Regions from separate parts of the Homo sapiens genome. Here region 2 is linked to region 1. A link means that fine-mapping ties the variant in region 1 to the expression of a gene that starts in the linked region. Tissue or cell type: whole blood. Region 1 holds a variant in brackets; the other region holds the start of a gene. All regions are shown on one strand. Distances are between the middles of the regions.

Region 1 (8,000 bases):
CAAAGTGCTGGGATGATAGGCATGAGCCACTGCACCCGGCCAAACTTCTGCTGTTTTAAGTCGCCCCATTTGTGGTACTCTGTGATGGGTACCTTAGGAAATCAAGGGAGGCTTCCTGGAAGAGGTAATGTCTAAGCTGAGGCCTGAAGCATGGGGTCGCCAGGCAGAACAGCGGGGCAGGCATGGGGCAGACAGAACCAGATGTCAAGCTGCGATAGGGAGGGGAGAGGCAACCAGGGCATCCCCTGCAGGGCCTGGAGAACCCACCTGGGAAGGGCGGGGGTGGGGCTCCGGAGGTGTCAGGGCGCCTCCTTGCTCTCAGGGTTGCATGCATCTGTGGGGAGGAAGACATCCGTGAGATGCTGACGGCCAGGACCGCCCTCGCTTCCCGCAGCCCCCAACCCCTGGGTGCCAAGGGCCACTGGACAGCTCCACCATCCCCAGAGAGTGGAGCCCAGAGCTTCCCTCCCAGCGCTGCCCAAAGCCTCTCCCGTAGTCTGTTCTGGGGGAGGTGGGGTAGGGGCTGCAGGGGCTGCCAGCCCACCCCTGGAAGAGAAGACCACCTGCTGCCCGCACACTGCCTGTGCTGTGAGGGGAAGGAAGGGTGGGCTCATGGGAAGGGAGGGAGAGGCTGGGGGGCATGGGGTGGGCGGGGCTTGCCAGGGTACCTGACTGGGGCAGCATGACCATCATGTCCTTGGGGAGCCCCAGGGTCGGGTAGAAGTCCTGGAAGGACTTCAGAGCCTGGGGACTCACATCCTGGGTCCGGCCTGGGCAGAGCAGAGGTCACTGTGAACTCAGCAGCTCACAGGAGTGCAGCACGGGGTCTCCTGGCCTCACTCCACCAGCCTGAGGGCTGACAGCAAGGCCGCCACCCTGGGTTGGGCAGGTTGTGCGCGGCATAAAGCTCCTGCCTGGCTGAAGGAAACTTGGGGCCCCCTTCCCCAATTCACACCAAGATGTCTGGGAGGTTGGGGTGGTCTGGCTGTCCTCCTGGGCCCCACTACCCCTTGAGCCTCTTTCCCTGCAGCCCGGAAGCCTCCAGCCTCACTCTGTCGGCTCCAATCGGGGAGTCCCCAGGAGTTAAAGAACCTGAGCCCCAGCCGGCGCGGTGGCTCACGCCTGGAATCCCAGCACTTTGGGAGGCCGAGGCGGACGGATCACGAGGTCAGGAGATCGAGACCATCCTGGCTAACACGGTGAAACCCCGTCTCTACTAAAAATACAAAAAATTATTTATATTTTTACAAATACAAATACGGGCATGGTGATGGGCGCCTGTAGTCCCAGCTTATCGGGGGGCTGAGGCAGGAGAATTGCTTGAACTGGGGAGTCGGAGGTTGCAGTGAGCCGAGATCGCGCCACTGCACTCCAGCCTGGGCGACAGAGTGAGACTCCATATTAAAAAAAAAAAAAAAAAAGAACCTCAGCCCCAGCCCCAGAACTCAGGCAGCGAGGCCAGGCAGGGAAGGGCGGGGCACCACTCTCAGGAGGCCAGAGAGGAGCATGCACCGCGGGACCCTCCCCCAAGCCAACCTCCTCCACATCCAAAGCACGGCGGGCCCAGCTCCCACCCCACCCGGTCCTGGCCAGGCCAGGAGTGTGTGCGAAGGGTCACAGCAGGAGAGGGCATGGGGCAGCACCAGAAGGGGCGGGCCCGGGGATGAGGAGGCGGAGCCTAAACTCGGCCTAAAAGGCGGGGGGCGGAGGGGTGAGGGCGGGGCCTGTGAGGAGGCGCGGGGCGGCAGGCGGGCGGGGCGGGGGTAGGCAGAACGGGGGGCGGGGCCTGTGGGAAGTTGGGGAGGGGCCAGTGCGGGGAGGTGGGACAGGCACTCACTGTAGAGCTGCACCATGGTGCTGAGGGCCCCCTCCAGCTCCTTGTAGATGTAAAGGACGGCGAAGGAGCTGTAGTCTGTGTCCACGATGCGCACGTCCAGGTAGCCCAAGGCTGCGGAGAGGCAGGCGGCCTTTTCAGGCTGGAGAAGTGGATGGGCCCGGGCACCGACCCCACCCATGCCTGCCCCTGCTGCTGGGCTGTGAGCCTGTTCCCCGAAGACAGAGGAGGGGCGGGGAGGGCGGGCAGGGGGCTGGAGACTGGGATGGACAGCTTGGGCCCGGGTGGAAAGTCAGCCCCACGTCACCCCCAGAGAAGCGGCATCCAGCACCCCTGAAGGCAGAGGAGGCAGGACCTACCCGGGACTCTGAAGTGTCCCTCGGAGCCCACCTTCAGGTACTCGGCATCCACCTGGTTACAGCCGTCCGCCCTGGGGGTGCACAGCCGGCTCACTCATGGCACCCAGCTACCTCAGCTCCCCAGCCCAGCCCAGGCAGCCCAGCCCAAGTAACTCACCCCGGGAACTCCATGTGGACGTGGAGGCCGCCCTCCTCTGTGGGCCTGATGGCCCTGGTGGACATGGACAGGTGGTCCTTCTTGCCCAGGAAGACCCTGCAGTCAGATGCCATGGAGACCACGTACCAGAGGCCTGAGAACTGCCGGGGGCTTAGTCACCCGCAGGCCAGGACAGCCAGCAGCAGGGCCCTCCTTGCCCAGGGACCCAGGGGACAACTCAGAAGTCACACAGCAAGGGGTCTCGGAGTGGCCATGTCTTGGGTGTGAGCTGAGCCCAGGTGGACAGGAACTCATCTTGGGTAGGTCACAGTGCAACTGTGAGCCTCAGTTCCCAGCTGTGAAGTGGGTGCAGTAATGATCCATTCACAGGTTGGTTTAGGATTAAGCGCAGAGTGGGTCTATAGCACGTGCCTGGCCGGGCACAGAGCAAGCGCCCCAGGAAAGGCAGTTGTCACAATTATCACGTTGTCTCTGGCAGGGGCCCAGCTCCCACCCACCACAGGACAGCAGAGGCCCCTGGTACCTTTTCAGCATTGAAGTCAGGCTGCAGCAGAACCTCAGCCTGAGCCGTGGGCGCCCAGAGCAGGGTCAGGATTGCGCCGAGCAGGAATGACATCATCCCCTCCCCTGCCCTCCAGCCCCTGGTGCTGAGTCCCCAAGCCCCAGGGGGCCAGCTTTATAGCCCAGGCCACCACCTGGGTGCACCTGCTCCTGGGCGGAGCAGATGGAAGCGGAAGGCACTTCGGCTCTGAGACTCCGGCCCCCTTGTCCATTGTTTGGCACAATCACTCGGATGTCCCCCAGCCCAGGGGGTCATTTCCTGGAGGGCTCCAGACAGCCAGGCTCTGGCCTGATGCACCCGGGCTGAGGATTTGTCCCCTAGGCCTGCCAGACTATGTCACCAGTCACGGGGCCACTGCCAAGCCACAGCAGAGACTTGTCCTGCCTTGCCTGGACTCGCACCCAAGCCCCTCTGTCCACACTCTGTCTGGCTGGGCTGGGCCAGGGCCTTTGGGGTACAGCTGCAGAGAGCTGGGCTGGGGTTGGTCTGGCTAGGCCCCCTCTCCTGGGATCTGGCCACCCAGAAAGCCCCCTTCTCTCACCCCCAACATGGGGGGTAGGGTCACACTGGCAGAGTGTCCAGGGCAGAGCTTGTGCCCCCACACTGTGAGAGAGGCCTGGGCACCCCTCACTCCAGACCCCCACCACCCCCGATGCAGCCCCCAGCTGGGCTTCCAGCAAGCAGGCCAGGGACCGGACGGGACCGGACAGGGCTGGGCTGGCCCTGGGGAGGATTACGGCATTGGATACCGCCTTATCACTGGTTGTATAAGCGTGCAGGGGGCAATGA[C/T]GCCAGGAAGGCGCCGCAGTCTGGCAGAGGCAGGAACCTCCCAAGTGACCTCTCTGTGTCCCCACAGAGCACCCAGGGACACTGGGCAAGGAGCAGCAGGTGGCCTCGGAGCACGCCCAGACCCCTCTGGTCAGGGGCGGGAGTCCTGCCAGGGAGGCCAGCACTGCCAGTCCTCTGGAGTGAGAGTGAGGCAGGAGAAGAGGGCCTGGACGCAGGGAGCCCAAGGGCGTCCTAGAACCAAATCAACTGGAAACACTAACGATGACGGGAATGTGAATGGCTTTGTACCTTCACTCCATCCTCTCCGTTTACGTAGGGCTCATACCGAGTACATGACTTCGTTTTGTTTGTTTGTTTTTTGAGATGGAGTTTTGCTCTTGTTGCCCAGGCTGGAGTGCAGTGGTGCACTCCTTGGCTCTCTGCAGCCTCTGCCTCCCGGGTTTAAGCGATTTTCCTGCCTCAGCCTCCTGACTATCTGGGATTACAGGCACCCGCCACCACACCCAGCTAATTTTGTATTTTTAGTAGAGACGGGGTTTCTCCATGTTCATCAGGCTGGTCTTGAACTCCCGACCTCAGGTGATACACCCACCTCAGCCTCCCAAAGTACTGGGATTACAGGCGTGACAGTATGCTCAGCCGAGAAAATGACTTTGACTTCATCCTCTTCATTTACATAGGGCATACACCAAGTAACCAATGGTAAACCGCTAGAGGATATTGAAACACTAGAAAATTCTGTAACCGGGGCCCTTGAGCTGCTTGCTCAGCCCGCTCCCACCCTGTAAAGAGTGCTTTCATTTTCAATAAATTTCTGCTTTTGTTGCTTCATTCTTTCCTTGCTTTGTTTGTGTGTTTTGTCCAATTCTTTGTTCAAAATGCCAAGAACCTGGACACCCTCCACTGGTAACGTGAGAGGGGGACAGGGTCAGAGAAAGACCCTTGGCCCCCAGCATCGGGGAAGGGAAGGAGCCGAGGGCTTCTGCTTGTGGCCTCCACTGGTCTTCAGGAGGTTCCAGTTCCCAGCCACGCCCCTGACAGGTTCACCTAAGCCAGCAGTTAGATACAGCAGGAAAACTGTGGTCAGCAAGCCACCCAGATGCCGAAGCAAGAGACCGAGGGCACGAGCTGTTCCAGTTTAATAAAATATATAAAATAACAAGAGTTATACTAGATCTAGATCATAGACATGATTATATATGAATATTATTAATCATTAGCTTGTAGCAATTACTCTTTATTCCAATATTATAATAATCCTTGCTCTACAATTATAACCTAGGAAAAACCAGGCCATACAGAGATAGGAGCTGAGCGGACATAGTGAGAAGTGACCAGAAGACAAGAGTGCGAGCCTTCTGTTACGCCCTGACAGGGCCACCAGAGGGCTCCTTGGTCTAGTGGTGACGCCAGCGTCTGGGAAGACACCTGTTGCCAAGCGGACCGTGATCTAGCAGTAGCGTCAGTGTCAAGGGAAAACACCTGCTACTTAGCAGACAGGGAAAGGGAGTCTCCCTTTCCCCGGGGGAGCTTAGAGAGGACTCTACTCCTCCACCTCCTGTGGAGGGCCTGACATCAGTCAGACCTGCCCGCAGTTATCCAGAGGCCTAACCGTCTCCCTGTGATGCTGTGCTTCAGTGGTCACGCTCGTAGTCCGCCTTCATGTTCCATCCTGTACACCTGGCTCTGCCTTCTAGATAGCAGTAGTCAATTAGTGAAAGTACTAAAAGTCTCTGATATGCAGAAATAATGATGTAAGCTGTCTCTCTCTCTCTCTCTCCGCCTTGGCTGCCAAACAGGGAAGGGCCCCCCATCCGGTGGACACGTGACTCACGTCACCTTACCTATCATTGGAGATGACTCACACTCTTTACCCTGTCCCTTTTGCTTTGTATCCAATAAATATCAGCACAGCCAGACATTCGGGGCCACTACCGGTCTCCACGTCTTGGTGGTAGTGGTCCCCAGGCCCAGCTGTCTTTTCTTTTATGTCTTTTTCTTGTGTCCTTATTTCTATGCCCTCTCATCTCAGCACACAGGGAGAAACTCACCAACCCTGTGGGGCTGGTCCCTACAGAAAACATCTACAAAACGCATACACCTGAGACGAGACTGAAATCCAGCATCCATGAGGAACTCCCAAGACTGAGTAATAAGAAAACAAGCCACTCCATTAAAAATAAAAAGAGGCCAGGTGTGGCATCTCACGCCTGTGATCCTCGCATTTTGGGAGGCCGAGGCGGGTGGATCACCTGAGGTCAGGAGTTCGAGACCAGCCTGGCCAACATGGTGAAACCCTATCTCTTCTCAAAATACAAAAATTAGCCGGGCATGGTGGCGGGCGCCTGTAGTCCCAGCTACTCGGGAGGCTGAGGCAGGAGAATCGCTTGAACCCAAAGTGAGGTGGGTGGGGGGAGGTTGCAGTGAGCCAAGATCGCGCCGTTGCACTCCAACCTAAGTGAAAGAGCAAAATTCCGTCTCAAAATATATATATAAACAAATAAAAATAAAAAGGCAAGAGATCTGAAAAGATACTCCACCAAAGAAAACATCCGGATGGGAGATGAGAACACGCTCAGCATCAGTCCATGGGAAGATGCAACCTGGAAGCTTTTTGAGACCCCTCTGTGCACCTCGCAGACCATGGAAGGCGTTCCACAGAAACAGGCTCAATCCCTAGAGCCTGTGAGGGCTGGGAGTCAGCAGAGCTATCACCCTCTGCGGGAAGAACAAGACGGGACCACACTGCAAAACTTCCTGGCAGACTCTCATGCAGTGAAACATTCCACCAACCTACCTACTTATGGAGGTCTCCACCCGGGAGAAATGAAAACTACGTTTACAGCGAACTTGAGCACTTCTGCATGAGCAGCACGTGATGGACACTCAGCAGTAAAAGGAACGAAGGTGGCTGAATCCCAGGTGCACCCTGCAGAGGGACAGAAGCCAGGTGGAAAAGGCTGCGATCTGCGACTCCTTTTATACGACGTTCTAGGACAGGTGAGCCCACAGGGCAGGGGGCTTCCCAGTGGCTCTGAGGGCTGAGGTGCGGGCAGTGATTGACCGCAAGGGACCTCGAGGAAGCTTTGTGGGCACCAGAGCTGCTGTGTCGCACTTGCAGTGGTTCCATGAACATTTGCATTTGTCTAAACTCACACAACTGTGCCCTCAAAGGGGCGAATGCAGCTGTGCATACATCATACCTCAACTTTTATTTATTTGTGGTTTTTCTTCGTTTTCTTTTCTTTTTTTCTTTTTTCTTTTTTTTCTTTTTTTTTTTTTTTTTTTTTTTTTTTTTTGAGACGGAGTCTCGCTCTGTCGCCCCAGGCGGGACTGCGGACTGCAGTGGCGCAATCTCGGCTCACTGCAAGCTCCACCTCCTGGGTTCACGCCATTCTCCCACCTCAGCCTCCGGAGTAGCTGGGACCACAGGCGTCCACCACCATGCTCGGATAATTCTTTGTATTTTTAGTAGAGACAGGGTTTCACCATGTTAGCCAGGGTGGTCTCGATCTCCTGACCTTGTGATCCACCTGCCTCAGCCTCCCAGAGTGCTGGGATTACAGGCATGAGCCACCGTGCCTGGCCTTGTTTTGTTTTTTAAGACGGGGTCTCACTCTGTCACTCAGGCTGGAGTGCAGTGGTGCAATCTCAGCTCACTGCAATCTCCACCTCCCGGGTTCAAGCGATTCTCCTGCCTCAGCCTCCCATGTAGCTGGGATAACAGTAGCCACCATGCCCGTCTAATTTTTTTTGCATTTTTAGTAGAGACAGGATTTCACCATATTGGTCAGGCTGGTCTCAAACTCCTGACCTCAGGTGATCTGCCCTCCTTGGCCTCCCAAAGTGCCGGGATTACAGGCGTGAGCCACTGCGCCTTGCCTTTTTTTCGTTTTTGACATAGTGAACTGGGGTCCTTTCTCAGAGCTCAGTCCCCTCCCACCCCAACCCCCATGCACGGCCCCCCCCCGCCACCCTGCCACCCCCCCATGCACTGCCCCCCCCGCCACCCCCCCATGCACTGCCCCCCCCGCCACCCCGCCACCCCTCCATGCACTGCCCCCCCGCCACCCCGCCACCCCTCCATGCACTGCCCCCCGCCACCCCCCCATGCACTGCCCCCCCGCCACCCCGCCACCCCTCCATGCACTGCCCCCCGCCACCACCCCATGCACTGCCCCCCCCGCCACCCCGCCACCCCCCCATGCACTTCCCCCCCGCCACCCCGCCACCCCCCATGCACTGCCCCCCCCGACACCCCGACACCCCCCATGCACTGCCCCCCCGCCACCCCGCCAC
Region 2 (8,000 bases), 23 kb before region 1:
GGTGACCACACTGCTGAAGTTGGCTTCTCCTGATCAGGCATCAACTCTGGGACTGCGTTTGCCGATTCTGTTCCCTAACGCAGCCGCAGGGGCCAGCACGCTGCCTGGCACGTCATGGGGGCTCCTCCATGTTGGGTGGATATGCGAACGGCTTCCTGAGAAAGTGCAGGATGTAAAGGAACGCGGAGGGTGGCGGCGGCGTGGAGGGCAGAGGCAAGGCACACGGCGAGGACTGCGTTGGGCCGGCCTGTGGTCTGTTTCACAGCAGACAGGGAATAGCAGCAGCCTGCAGTGTGCTCCAGAAGACAGTGGGGAAGGGGCCTGGCTGACATCTCGCCACCCGGTCAGCCTGTATCCTCCTTCCCCCATCTTTCTGTGATCATAAAGGATCCCTTGAGCCACTTGATTTTCACACTGTCAATGACCTAGAGTCACCAAACACCTCTCAACAAGCCGTGGTCTCCACTTGACATCTGGAACAACGCTCCTCGGGTCTGGGAGGACCACGCGTCGAAAGGGAAGAGCAGAGGACGCTGGCTCTCATGGCAGGATGGTGTGTGTACGGGACGCTGTGGGAGAGGAAAACAGCCACATGTGGGCTGGCTGCTTGGAGGAGACACATGAGCCGTGAACACGTCTCCCCCGGCCGCTCCCTGGTTCCATGCGTGCTCGTCTTGGGCACCACGAGAACACAGCCATGCAGCCCCCGATCCTGCAGCCACAGCCACGGCATCGCCTGGTCGGATGCAGCATCTGCTCCGGACGCCTCTCGCTGTCGGTGCCAGGCCTGCCAGGCCAAGCCCCGATTCTCAGGGGCGGCAGGAGGTGGGAGGCACGTTTGGGCGGATCTTTCAAATGGCACCTTTCAAATGGATCCTTTCATCTCTCCTTCCCCCAATGAATCAGCTCCCCAATGGGACGGGCAGGTAGGGCCAGGAGGGCAAAGGGCTGAGGGCACAGCTTACCGTCTTTCGGGAGGATGACGGCGGCCTTGGAGAGCCCCAGAATGTCACAAGCGTCCATGAATTCCTTCAGACTCTGGAAGCTCGAAACATTCTGCCTATCTGAGGTTGAGATCAGGATCACATCAGAGACTCCAGCTCTGGCCATTTTAGGGTCTGCACCCTGACCCCCATCCCTACCCCAGGAGCTGCTGAAATGTCCTCAGAGCTTAGGCGTGAAGCAGGGGTTGGCCAGGGGAGGACAGCGGCCGCTGGGCCCCTCCCCACTTACGAGGCAGCCAGGCTCGGGAAGCCAGGGTCACCACGCTGTCACCTGGGGAACCCTCTCTGCCTGCAGAGTCCCCTCCAGCCAGCCCCTCAGCTGTGCCCCAGCTTGCTGCACCCTGAGCGTGCCCTGCCTCGACTGAGACCCCAGGACCCCACCTCCCCTCTACCCGTTCCAACCGGGAGGGCCACTCCTTTCCGTGTACCCCAAGTGGTTGGTGTCTAGAATTGGGTTTGTGGCCCTTAACCCACACTGGGTCACTTCCACACCCCTCCATCCCGGGCAGACCCTTACCTGGGACCCCTCCCACGCCTCCTCATCCCCACTGTGTCCCTCACCCAGAACGTTGCACCTGCACCCGCCACCATCCTGGTGGCCTCCGCTCCCCCTGGATGGCCCACCTTTCTCTGCAGCCTCTTCCTGACGTCCCCTATCCTTGCTTCAGCGACCTCCAGGACCTGACTGCTGTGGTCTCGGCTTCCATTGCCCCTGCCCTGACCACCGCCCCAACCCCCACTCTCCCTGCCCGCCTCACCTCCTGCCCGGCCCCCTGTGCCCAGCGCCCCTCTATGCCTCCCTCTGCACCCCCTCCACCATCCTCTGCCATCCGCTGTGCCTGCTCACGGAAGAGCAGCAGGTTCTTGTAGTTTTGGGTTGCACGCCCCAGGCGGAGGTAGACCAAGCCGTAGCTGTAGTCAGTGGACAGCACGTGGAAGGCCTTCACCCCTTTCACTGAAAGAGATGCCCAGAGATGCCCGCTGGTTCCCGGATGGCGTGGCTGTGCCCGCCCACAGCCCTGACCCCTGGTGCCCGAGGCCTCAGAGCCCCCACCCAGGTGCAGGTGTCCAGAGGGACTGAGTGCCCTCCCGGGGCCTCCCCTCCCGGGCCAGGCCGCCCAGCACATGACGTGTGGGCTCTGGGAACACAGCCAGCCTGACGCCTGCCTGCCACGTGCTCTCGGGGACAAGGGGCCTGCTCAAGGCACAGGGGGGTCAGAGGCATATCACGCAGCTCCTCCAGGGCCCAGAGCCCAAGCACACCTCCCTCCTGTCCTTCCCTCGGGCCCGCCGCGTATGCACAGGCGTTCCCAAACACCGGCTTCTTCCCGTCTTTCCTCAGGATCACCTCCTGGGACTGGCACCCCTTCAACCTGGGGCCAAGGCGGGGGCTCAGGCTGCAGACCAGGGAACCCCTCCTCCCGCCTGCCAGCCACCGAGCCCCACCCACACGTCTCGGTCCCGCCCCTGCTCCCGTGGGACCCGGGAAGGTTGGGGCCCCAGGTCCCCAGTTTTTTGCTTCACTATCCAACTCGTGTCAATCTGAGGCTCTGTGGTTTGAGGATTTTCCAATTCGGACTGGGGCCTGTCCCACGGCACGAGAGAAACTCCCAACACCCACCCGTGTGGGGCCCAGGAGCTGCAAGCGGCTTCCTCCCAACACCTACCCATGTGGGGTCCCAAGGTCTGCAGGCAGCTTCCTCCCAACACCCACCCATGTGGGGTCCCAGGGGCTGCAGGTGGCTTCCTCTGAGTTTAGGGGGAGGAAGTGGGGGGACGGTTCTTGTGGAACTTCCAGACAGACAGGCTCCTCCCAGACTCCTTTCCAGCCCCGAGGCAGCTCCCTCCTCCTGGAAGGGGAGACCCTTGCCTGGGGGGCGCTGCCCACTCACCGTCTGAAGGCGAGGAGCACGCGGAGCTGGCCCACTTTGTTCACCTTTACCACGGACGCCCCCAGCTTCCTCTTGTCCCTGGCCGGCAAGAATCCCTGGGCATCAGTGGCAGTGGCCAGAATGTACCAGAACCCTGAAAACTGCGCAGCGGATGTGTGGGCGGGGACAGGAGCTGCCACCGGGGGCTGTCCCCACCCCCGAGGTTCCCAGCTAGAGAACCCAGGAGACAAATGACCCTTCTGTGAGCCGGAGTCCCAGCTCCGCCCAGGTGCCGCCTCGGTCCCGGCCACTCAAGCCCTGGCCACTGGAGCAGGGCTGCAGAGAAGCAGGTGCCCGGCTGGTCAGGGACCCCAGGCAGCAAAGGGCTGGGCTGTGGGCGCCAGCAGGTGGGAGGCCCCCTACCTCAGAGGCCCCGGCTCCTTCCCACATGGCCTCCTGGGGGCTGGGTACTGCTCGGCCACTTCCCTTCCTGCCGGCCCCCGGCCCCCAACTCTGCCTGCTGCCAACCCTAGCGCCCTGGGCACCGCCGTGCCAATGAGTGCTGCTCCCACGGCTCACTCAGCAGGTGCCCGGGCCCTCCCGCTACAGAATATGCCCCGCTTGCTCCACACCCACTCTGCACTCTGGGCGTCTCCCGACCTCCTCGGCCACAGCTCTCTGGGCCCCTCCACCCTGGCCCTCCCTGACCCCCCTGGGCCCCCGAACCCCCTCGAGGCTCCCTGCCTTTGCCCTGCAACTTGCGGGGCCCCTGTGCTGGAGGCTGCAGTGGGAGAGGCCAGGTGGGCAGCGCCCGTGCCTGGAACTGCTGGTAGCCCTGCTCCTGGGCGGCTGCCGGGAGACTGTGCAGGAGCCTGCTCCAGCTCCAGAGCCGGCGCCCGGCTCAGGGACCAGTGGCACATGGCTCACCTTGTTCCAGTTGAGGGCGTGGGACTCCCTGGGGTACCACTCCTGCACCTGGGACCCTGCAGCCAGCACTAGCACCAGCACCAGCACCAGCGCCAGCACCAGCAGCCCCTGCCTCATCTTCACCCTCCTCCCTCAGCCGCCAAGGCCAGTGTTTAAACCTCTCTGGAGCCGCCAGCCTGTGTCGGGAGAGGAGGGAGGGGAGGGAGCGGAGGGAGGCAACAGGTGTGGCCTTGGGCTCTGCTACCCTCTCCCCGCCCAGGGACCACCCCCAGACACTCCAGGGAAGCCGGCACTGCCCCACCTGGTGGTCACTGCTGGCCTGGGCTGCCCTGGCAGACAGAGGCCCCTCTGAGGCCCCAGGACCCTCCTGCCCTCAGTGCCCGGCCTGGGGTCACTGTGTGTGCCCCTGAGACTCATTAAGCCCTGGCCCTCATCCTAGACCTCCCAGGTGACAGGCAAAGGGCTGGTCGTGGCCCTTCTGGGGCAGATGTGGACATGGTGAGCTCTGCGCGGCAGCCACACACACAGCCCCCACCACCTTCTTGAGGGCCTGGCACCAAGCACCTGAGCAGGTGCCGAAGGGCGGGCCGGGGCTGTGTGCCCGTGCCCATGAATGTGTGTGTGTGCATGTGTGGGTGTGTGCTCACATGTGCATGCGTGTGCATGCCCAGCCTTGCAGGTCAAGGCATCTGTGTGCACCTCGCCTCACTCCAGCATGAGCCTCACACAGTCCCCAGCCCCCCATCCAGCCCCGAGACCCCCATGGCCTGTGCTTCTCCCAGGACGGCAGGCAGCGCAGCCCCCCACACCCATCAGAACACAGGAGGACCTGCAGGCTCAGGTGTCTGGGGTCCCTGCCCCTGCCCAGGCAAGAGACACAACCCCAGCCCAGAGAAGCCTGAGCCTGGGGAGTCAGGGGCTGCTCTGAGCCCCACCAGCCACCTCTCTCTTGTCCTGGGCAGTCCTTGGAGCCTCTGGCACCCCAGCTGCGGTCCTGGTGGAGCTCACTGCTGGCTTCCTCCCAGGCTGTGTCCTCTGACCAGCCCCCGCCTCTGAGCCCGGGCCTGAGTTTGGGTGTCTGAAGACCCAGAGGGGCTCTGGCAAGGGACTGGGTTGGGCACGCGTCTTCTTTGCAGCTGGCTCTATGGTTCTGTGGCTTGGCCCTTGGTGACGACCCCCGCCATCCTCCCCGCAATTCCCCGGCTGGCCCCCAGTCAAAAGCATCCTTGGTTTGCTGTGGAATCGCTTTATTCTGAGCTGGTGCTGGGCCCCGGGAGCCGCTGAGCGAGGTGGGTGGACACTGGCCGAGGTCACAGGACCCTGTGGGCGCCATCCCTACTGGGGACGCAGCACTCACTGAAAACCAAGAGGAGTGTGAGGGGGCCCAGCCCACCATGGAGGCTCCTCCACACCCTCAGCTGCCTTAGAGACAGTGGAGCCATGAACCCCGTGGGCTTGGGCAGAGGGTCCTCCCACCCACTGTGCGTAGGGTGGCCTCCCCCACCCCCTTCCCCCAAGAGAGCCCAGGGTGAGGCTCAGGATGGCGGCTTACCAGAAGGATCTTGTGAGCACAGGTGACTAGAAGGGGAGGCAAGACTGGCTGTGAAAAAGGACTGAGCCCCCCAGCACCCCAGGGCCCCACCCACAAGACTCGCCTGCCGTGGGGACAAGACCCCCAGGCCTGACTTTGGGCAGGGGCAGGTGAAGACCCCCTCAGCCTGCCTGACTCCTTCAGGGCGACTGAGTCAGGCAGAAGCCAGAATCAACCCCAGGGTCTCTGTCACCCCATCACGCCCTGTGGGCTCCAGAACTTGCCCCAAGCCTCCCCCGAGGCTGCTCCGGTGGACACTCACGGTCCTTCTGCAGCTGGGCCTGCTACTGTGACAGGAAGCCCAGGCTCCTGCTCCACTTGGTGAAGAGCCCCATGGCCTCCTGGCTGGCTGTCTCCGTCAGACCTGGGGGCACCAGGGCAGTGCAGGGGGAAGCAACCTCTGAGAGCTGGGGAGGGGCCGGGGAGGGGCTGGGAAGGGTCAGGAAGGAGGCCACCTGCCCTGGGATGCTGGCCCCGGTCCTTCCAAAGCCACCTCCAGTGCAGCGAGCCTCAAGGTGGGGGAACTTGGCCTGCATGTGGTCCTGTGCGGCCCACCCACCACACAGCTCCCCACATGGCCCCCGAGCGGCCCACTCACCACACAGCTCCCCATGTGGCCCCAAGCGGCCCACTCACCACACAGCTCCCCACATGGCCCCCGAGCGGCCCACTCACCACACAGCTCCCCACGCGGCCCCCAAGCGGCCCACGCACCACACAGCTCCCAACGTGGGCCCCGAGTGGCCCACGCACCACACAGCTCCCTACGTGGGCCCCGCACAGCACACTTACTGTACAGCTCCACGGTGTTGAAGGGCTCGTCCCCGAACTCCAGCTGAGTGAAGATGATGGCATAGTCTCTGAAGTTGGTGGCCAGCACCCAGAGCTCCAGCACGCCTATTGCTAGGAAACAAAACCCCCCGCCTCAGGGGAGGGCAGCTGCTGTATCCATCCAGGGGCCGCTGAGCTGATGCTGGCCACAGGGACAGAGGGGCCAATTCAAGTGAGAGCCCCCCTCCCCAGGAGACCCCTCCAAGCACACCCAGAGCCCCCAAGCTTTGTCCCCCACCCCCGACCCCACCTGGTGCCAGCATCAAGGGGCTTTCAGACACTGACGGACAGACAGACAAGCACTGCCCCAGCCTGTCCCAGGTGTGAACGAGGAGCGGCTGGGTCACACCAGCCCAGCCCTGTACCTGTAGACAGCCACTAAACAGGCCCCTCGCCCTCTGCACCTATGGGGACCTTGGCTGGACCTCACTGGTGTCTGAGCCTGCTGGGAACAAGGTTCCAATCCTCTGTCCAGGGGCTTCTCTTCACCCTCAGGATGGGCAGCAATCCCAAGACCAGAACCTGTAGCCTCCTGGCTCTCGGGAGCGGAGTCAGCCCTCCGTCCCTGCCCGCAGGGGGCCTGGGGATGCTGCAGGGAAGAACGGCCTGGGTGAGGCCGTGGCCGTCAGACTCACAGGGATTCTCAAACACCCATCCGGAGTTTCGCTTTATCAGGTCCATGACACTCTGGTCACACCCTCCCAGCCTGGAAAAGAAGGGGCCTGTCACCCACTCAGGGTCAAGACCCCGGGGCCCGGTGAGAGGAGACGGAGCTCAGGAGTCCAGGCCAGGCCAGCCAGCAGTGAGGCCAGAGCTTCCATCTTCTGCCAGATGCCCCGATGCCCGGAAACCTGTTCTCGGAGAGTGGACGGCGTGGGAGTCCTGAGAGGGGCGGACACTCCCATTCACTTCCTGAGAGATCCTCAGTGCCAGATCTCCACCAGGAACGCTGAATGCTGCTGAGGACACAACAGGAGACTCGACAGACGGGAGGTTCGCCCGCGACTCGGGGGAAAGATGGGGTGGGGTGGGGGTTCGCCCGTGACTCAGGGGAAGGATGGGGCGGGGTGGGGGTTCGCCCGCAACTCAGGGGAAGGATGGGGCGGGGTGGGGGTTCGCCCGTGACTCAGGGGAAGGATGGGGTGGGGTGGGGGTTCGCCTGCGACTCAGGGGAAGGATGGGGCGGGGTGGGGGTTTGCCTGCGACTCGGGGGAAGGGGCCGGCGCTCCCTAAGTGGTCAGTCCCCAGAGTGAGCAAAACCCAGCAAAGGTGCAATGGTGTTTGCCAAGGAAGGAAACTGAGGCTGAGTCCATGCGGGAGGAACAGCAAGAAGAACTAGGAAAGCCACGTGGGAGCTGCCACCTCAGCCTGGAGCCCCTTGGTCCCAGCTCGCCCTGAGGCCAGGCCTGGCCCGGGGGGTGCAGTGGGGCCCCTGCCCATACCCTGCAGGCGCAGGTGCAGGGGGAAGGCACGCTGGTGAGGAGGGCAGGTTCTTCTCTCTGGGCCCCGTACCTGGCTCAGTGGTTCAGGCCTGGGCTCTGTCGCCAGCCTGCCAGGGGGTAGACACCCACCACGCCACCCAGCAGGCCACTCTTCTGTGAAGGGAGGCGGGCACCGACTCCTGCCCCAGCACGGCTACCCCCACAGCCCGGCTGCCCTGTAGGTGTCCCCTGTGTAGCACGGCCGCCCCACAGCCTGGCCCACCCGACCCCTGCACGCCGCCACCAGCCATGCATGTGGTCGGGTGCGCCTGCCTGAGGCCACAAGGCCAGTCTG

What was found. PIP is the estimated chance that this variant, and not a neighbour inherited with it, causes the effect.
Region 2: it holds the start of LCN10, and the variant in region 1 is fine-mapped to the expression of LCN10 in whole blood (TOPMed, PIP above 0.99).

The regions. Positions count from the first base shown.
Region 1 is chr9:136,761,520-136,769,519 of GRCh38, forward strand. LCN15 (lipocalin 15) reads right to left here and starts at 2,999. Exons shown (of 7, transcript NM_203347.2): 1 at 2,874-2,999; 2 at 2,351-2,490; 3 at 2,194-2,264; 4 at 1,838-1,948; 5 at 669-770; 6 at 268-334. The coding sequence starts at 2,969. The coding sequence ends at 300. LOC107987143 (a long non-coding RNA gene) reads right to left here. Exons shown (of 3, transcript XR_001746981.2): 2 at 6,242-6,630; 3 at 4,824-6,155. RefSeq lists enhancers at 1,722-2,369, 4,645-4,694, 4,705-4,754. The variant C/T (reference allele first, on the strand shown) is at 3,702.
Region 2 is chr9:136,738,985-136,746,984 of GRCh38, forward strand. LCN10 (lipocalin 10) reads right to left here and starts at 3,956. Exons shown (of 6, transcript NM_001001712.3): 1 at 3,803-3,956; 2 at 2,897-3,036; 3 at 2,268-2,377; 4 at 1,852-1,959; 5 at 966-1,064; 6 at 1-569. The coding sequence starts at 3,919. The coding sequence ends at 541. LCN6 (lipocalin 6) reads right to left here. Exons shown (of 7, transcript NM_198946.3): 3 at 6,860-6,930; 4 at 6,186-6,296; 5 at 5,656-5,757; 6 at 5,355-5,380; 7 at 5,033-5,158. The coding sequence ends at 5,678. MIR6722 (microRNA 6722) reads right to left here and starts at 7,986; the gene lies at 7,909-7,986. LOC100128593 (a long non-coding RNA gene) reads left to right here and starts at 7,177. Exons shown (of 3, transcript NR_033913.1): 1 at 7,177-7,217. RefSeq lists a silencer at 3,361-3,460.